2 separate regions of the Homo sapiens genome follow, and region 2 is linked to region 1. Evidence: fine-mapped expression QTL. A gene starts in region 1. The other region holds a variant in brackets. All regions are shown on one strand. Distances are from middle to middle. Region 1 holds the start of LINC02793 (long intergenic non-protein coding RNA 2793). Region 2 has its middle 23 kb from the start of LINC02793.

Evidence for each region. PIP is the estimated chance that this variant, and not a neighbour inherited with it, causes the effect.
Region 2: its variant is the best candidate, but not a certain one, in a credible set for the expression of LINC02793 in lymphoblastoid cells (GENCORD, PIP 0.50).

The regions. Positions count from the first base shown.
Region 1 is chr1:25,039,459-25,042,369 of GRCh38, reverse strand. LINC02793 (long intergenic non-protein coding RNA 2793) reads right to left here and starts at 1,203. Exons shown (of 3, transcript XR_947090.3): 1 at 992-1,203.
Region 2 is chr1:25,062,925-25,065,835 of GRCh38, reverse strand. No RefSeq gene overlaps it. Among named protein-coding and RNA genes, the nearest start is that of LINC02793, 23 kb to the right of the region's middle. The variant G/A (reference allele first, on the strand shown) is at 1,500.

The DNA.
Region 1 (2,911 bases):
ATGAATGGCAAGGCTAAAGAGCTGTAACACAAACAGGGCTGAGATATGTCCCTTGCTCGCCATGCCACAGGCAAAGAGGAGAGAGGAGCTGCAGCCCTTCAGGGAGCTCAGGCCTGGGTGCTCCCTGAGCCAGACCTATGACTCCCTCCTTGGGTCCCTGTGGTTCCTGGCATCTCCAAGCTTCCAGGTGCCACTATGTTCCCAGTGCCAGCTGTGGATGCTGCTTGCAATGCACCTGGTCCAACCACAGACTCACAGAAAGCTGGCACTGGTGCTGGCACCTGGAGCTGCCTGCCCCACTGCAGCAGCCACACAGAGGTTTCCGGCCAGAAAAGTGACACCCCAAAGATCCCGTAGCACTAATACACCAACTCAAATTTGAAGAAGAATATTAAGAAAGCCTTGTCTTTTTAGAGACGATGGCTTATTATAAAGTGTAGTGATTCAAGGAGGATGTTCAAAAAATGGAAGAGAGAACCTCTGAACGCACCCACTTATAAATGGGCACTTCGAACGTGGAAGACGTCAGCATTTACAGAGCAACCTATTTAATAAAGAAATGGTGCTAGGCTAACTGGCTCTTCACACAGAAGAGATAAAATGCTATTCCTACCTCACACCAAACATAACGTACATTTCAGATGACCCAAAGCCCTGAATGGGAAAGAGCAAAATTTAAAATTTTTAGAAGAAAGTAATTATTCATGACATTGGGGGTACAGAAGTCTTAAAACAAAAACAAAAACAAACTAGATACAAAATTGAAATAATAAAATAAAAAATTAATAGTTAAGACTACATCTGTATTGAGCATATACTATGTATCAAGCATGATCTGCTCCACACTGCCACCAGAGCCACACATCTGACCACACCTGTGCCTGATTGAAGCCTTCTGAGCAGGGTGGTGCCCAGCCCACCAGGGGCAATGCAGGCCTACTTCTAGAGCAAAGGTTCCCACCCTCTCCTGAAGGCATCACACCCCACACACCTTCATTGCTTTCCGGCATTCCTTAAATACAACACCCTCTTTCGTGTCTCTAAGCCTTTGCACCTGCTCTTCCTTCTGCCTGGAGTGCATTCTCTTATTCACCACCTGGACAACTCCAGTGCATCCTTAAACGCCCAGCTCAGGTATCATGTCCCCAGGAAAGCATGCTGGCTTGCTGCGGGACTACTGCCTGCAGGACAACAGGCAATGTTGCAGTTCTCTCATCTCCACAAGCACTTACCTGGTGCTGTTCATTATGAAGTCTTTGCTGCTGCTTCCATTATGAGGGAGGTCCCTGGGGGTGAGGTGGGATGATGCATAACGTGATAGTTGAGTGTTGGCTCTGGAGACAGACAGTCCTGGGGAGAAATTCCAGATCTGCCATATTCTTGACAATGACCTTAAGCTTTCTGAGCATTTGTTTCTGTAGAGTGGGGCAGCAGGCCCACCTCCCAGGGGTGTTGTGAAGGTGAGATGAGATGACATGCGATGTGTTCATACCTGAGTTTGGGCTGATCTGAAAGCAGACCCTGCAACTCACACTAGGATGTGAGTTGCAGGTAGTTCATTTATGATCCCAAGGAGTACCTGTAAGGGGGTGGGGAAGAAACCAGGGAGGAATATGCATTAGCCAGCAAGTTATAGCTGTGGGCAACCGGGGCTCCATCCCACTGGGGACCCTGGGAAGACAGCGTAGAACACACCTGAGTGACCCCAGCTGAGCGGGGAGGGAGCTGAGTGTGTATTCCTCGGCTCTGTTCCAACATTGCTTGAGGGTCACTCCTAGGTGTGTGCTAACTCCCAGGACTCTGGCTTGCCCCCAACCACTGACCAGAGAACATTGTTGTGGGGCAGGGGGAGTTGCAGGTGCTGTGGTTGGAAGCTTTCCCATGGGCATGAGCCACAGGAATAACCAAGGCACGCGGGCGGCACTGCCATCTGCTGCAACCACGCATGCACCTGTGCGCAGTCACCAGAAGTTGCCCATTTGTTTTCTCATTTGTTTCCACAACCATCCTGGGAAAGGCATTCTGCCCATTTACAGATCAGGAGACTGAGGTCCAGAGAGGTTACCTAAGAAGACATTTGTTGAATAAATGAATCAATGAACAAGTGAACGCACAGACCTCTCTGAAGTGGTGAATTAAGTCAATCTGAGAAGATGAGAATCCAAGAGTCCCGATTCCCAGCTGAGGCTTGCATTCTCTCCCCTCATGCCCAGCTATCTCTGCACAGTGCTCTGCCGTCTCGAATCCCTTTCCACTCAGTAATCACTGAGCCAGTGGTGACTCCATGTTCAGGCTCAGGGGGGAAGCCCACTGGTGTAGGAGATTTGAGTTCTGGTCCTGGCTGTGTCTTCATCTGCGCTATGATGTTGGGTATGTCCTGGCCCCACTCTGGGCTCAGTTTTTCCATCTGTTAAATGGGAATGGGTGGATGTTAGATCAGCTAAGTCCCCCAGGCTGTTGGAACAGTGGGGAGGCTTTGGGTTGGGTTGCCCAGACTTGCCAGGTCTGGCATGGGAGATGGAGGGAACTGATGTGTCCCCTCTGCCCAGCATCCTGCTTGACAGGGCTGGCAGCTCAGTGGTTACAGCATCTCCTGATTTGGCCACACCTGGCTCTGAGGTCAGATTTTGGCCTGATGCAACGCTGGTGGCAGGCTTCACTCCGCAGACACACACTTCTGACGCTGGCCATGTTTGAGTCCTGACTTGGGCCTATTTGCTCTTTGACCCTGGTGATGGATGAAGTCCTGATTTGAACATAAACCGACGGCTGTCCCTTGTCACAGACTGATCCCTCAGCCAAACCATACACTGACTCCTGCCGGGGTACCCACTGACTCCTGATCCAACCACAAACCTCTGGCCCAGGCTGACTGCTGACCTTGGCCCCACGCTGACCACTGGGCAGCGGC
Region 2 (2,911 bases), 23 kb before region 1:
CGAGAGCTCCCGCCGCAGCTGCAGCAATCACGACACAGATCATGATATGGTTAGTTCATATTTAGGAAGTGACTGGTGGGACTTGAGCCCACTGCCAGGCACGGAGGAGGCACCGGAAGCATTTGGGTTGAATTTGCTCAGACTCTGAATCTGTGCTCTGGACAGGCACCTGTGCCCGGCCCAGGCCCTGCACTCTTTTCCAGTGGCTTCTCAGGGGTCGGCCTGCAGCAGCCAGGGGTGGGTATCCATGCCGTGGCGGAGAGATCAGAGTTGCACTGTGGGGAGTGGCTTTCTTTTGCCTGCAGCTGCTGCTTGGTGTTCTCTGCCGCTCACGGCCTATGAGCACAGAGATTGTGTCCTGCTCTTCCGCCTGCTGCCCACCCATTACATGTGCCCATGGAACATAAGAAGAGCAAGTCATCTATCTGAGGGGCATACCCGCTGCTGGGGACAGGTTCAGTGGAGCTCATGAGTGGTGTGGAGGGGCAGCAAGTGCCCAGCAGACCCTCAGGAGCACCTGGATGCACTTTGAGTTTGGGGGAGTCGGGAGGATGCAGTCTCTTTGCAGCAGTGCCCCCCATGCCTGGACAGAGGCCTTCAACCAAGGAAGGTCTGCTCAACTCCCCAGCCCTCTTTATTGATTTTGGGACACTGTGGGCAAGAAGGGCTCTTAGATCACTTGTCTGGCCCTTCAGTTCATAAAGGAAGTGATGAGGCACAGAGAGGGGAAGGGACTTGCTTGAGGTCACAGAGCAAGTCAGAACGCAGGGCTCCAGGTTTCCAGCTCCAGGCCTCTCAGACTTCCGTGCTTCCAGGGGCCATGTCGGTGACATTAAAACCATAGTGCAAGTGACAATGTGGCAACTGACGTTGGCTTCAGTGTCAGGAAGGCAAGAGGGAGAGTCCTTGTCTGATCCCAGGGAGGGGGGGCTGCCACCCAGCAGGAAGGTGGGCTTTATTCCACCAGAGCTTCTGCTTTTTCCAGCAAAGTTGGAAATCGGGGTTTTCATGTGATGTGAAGTTTTACAATTGTTAAATGTTGACAAAGCTAAAACAAAAAAAAATTCAAAAGCATGGTGACATGCAAAGCAAAATGACTCATTTGACACCTGTGGGTTACAAGTTTGCCACCTTGGGACTGTCTTTCTGTGGGGCTTGGTGGGTGGAATTGTGGGAGGAGGCGAAAGGCCTAGATGCTGCCAAGAGGATCTGAGCTTTGAGACACTGTTGTCTGATTATATTCATTCATTCATTCATTCATTCATTCATTCATTCATTCACCCTCTGGTCTGGGCTTTGCAGTCTCTCTTCCTTGTTTCAGGGGGTCTGCCTTCCCGTTGGCAAAATAACCTTGTTCTGAGATTCCCAACATCCCAGCAGCCAGACTACGGGCAATGAAGGATTTCCAGGGAACATGGGAACCTGCTGGTATCTCTCCTTGCATTTTTCTGGATAAGGTTTAAGGGCTTTCTTGGTGCGGTGGAGAGTGAAGCTGAGCT[G/A]CAGAGCCCACTCTAGACAGACCTAACCCCTAGTCCTGGTCCCATTCCTACCCTGGGGATTAAAATTTGGGATTGGCAGATCAGGTTTGGATCCAGGTTCTGCCACTAACAAGCTGTGTGACCTTAAACCAGTGACTACCCCTCTCTGAGCCTCGGAAAGAAGACCCTGCAGATGCCTGGCCCAAGTCCCCTCAGCCTTCACTTTTTCCCATTTGGTGCTGCTTACTGCACACGCCATGACTGTTTGCCCGAGGGCATTTCCTCTCTGTGTGAGTGAAATCGAAGCTGAAGGGCTTTGAGCCCTGGAACATATGCATCCGCTGAAGCAGCCCTCGGGCAGTAAGGCCTGAAGGCAGACAAATATCCCAGCCTCCTGTCCCCTCAGTTGGGATGATCCTGGGGCATATTCCACGCCATCTCCCAGCAAGCCCCAACCACTTTGGTTGCCCGCAGTGGTCATTTGTTTAATGACTCAGCCTTTTATGTCTTTCTTCCCTTCCCTGTCTCATTTCTCCTCTTCCTTACCGGTATTTCCTGGTATCATCTCTGAAATGCACTACTCACAGGGAACTGAGCCCTCACCTAAGGGCTGCTTCTGGGGGACACCATACTAAGAACCTCAGTTTATGCAGCTGTCAAATGGGTCCACTTACCATCAGCATAGCTTCAGAATTGCTGTGAGGGTAAACAACTTACTGCATATGTAAAATGCCTGGGAGCTGCCTGGTACCCTGCTAGCCTTTCCTCAATGGGTGGTAGGTTTTTTTATTTTTTATTTTATTTTTATTTTTATTTTTTAGACAGATTCTCACTCTTGTCGCCCAGGCTGGAGTGCATTGGCAACATCTCGGTGCACTGCAACCTCCGTCTCGCAGGTTCAAGTGATTCTCCTGCCTCAGCCTCCTGAGTAGCTAGGATTACAGGTGCCCACTACCATGCATGGCTAATTTTTTGTACTTTTAGTAGAGACGGGGTTTCACAATTTTGGCCAGGCTGGTCTTGACTCCTGACCTCAGGTGATCCGCCCACCTCGGCCTCCCAAAGTGCTGGGATTACAGGCATGAGCCACCGGGCCTGGCCAGGTGGTAGGTTTTATTGTTGTTGATGAAGGTGTTGTGACATTGGGCTGACCCCCAGGTCCCAATTTCAGGTCCTTTAGGGCAGTTTCGATGTGGGGGCCTGGCTGCTGCAGGAGGGCCTCAGGGGCTGGCTTGTGCACTGAGGGTGAAAGAGGCAGGAAAGACAGTGGCCTCTGTGGTGGGGACAGAGGGGATAGTGGGGTCTGGGTAGCAAGAGGGTTGGGCCCCCAGGGGAGCGCATTGGCACTACCCCTGCCCCCAGACCTCAGAGTTGTTATTGAAAATGGTGCTAATGGGGCCAAGCCCAGCTGTCACCATCAAGGGAGTGGGCAC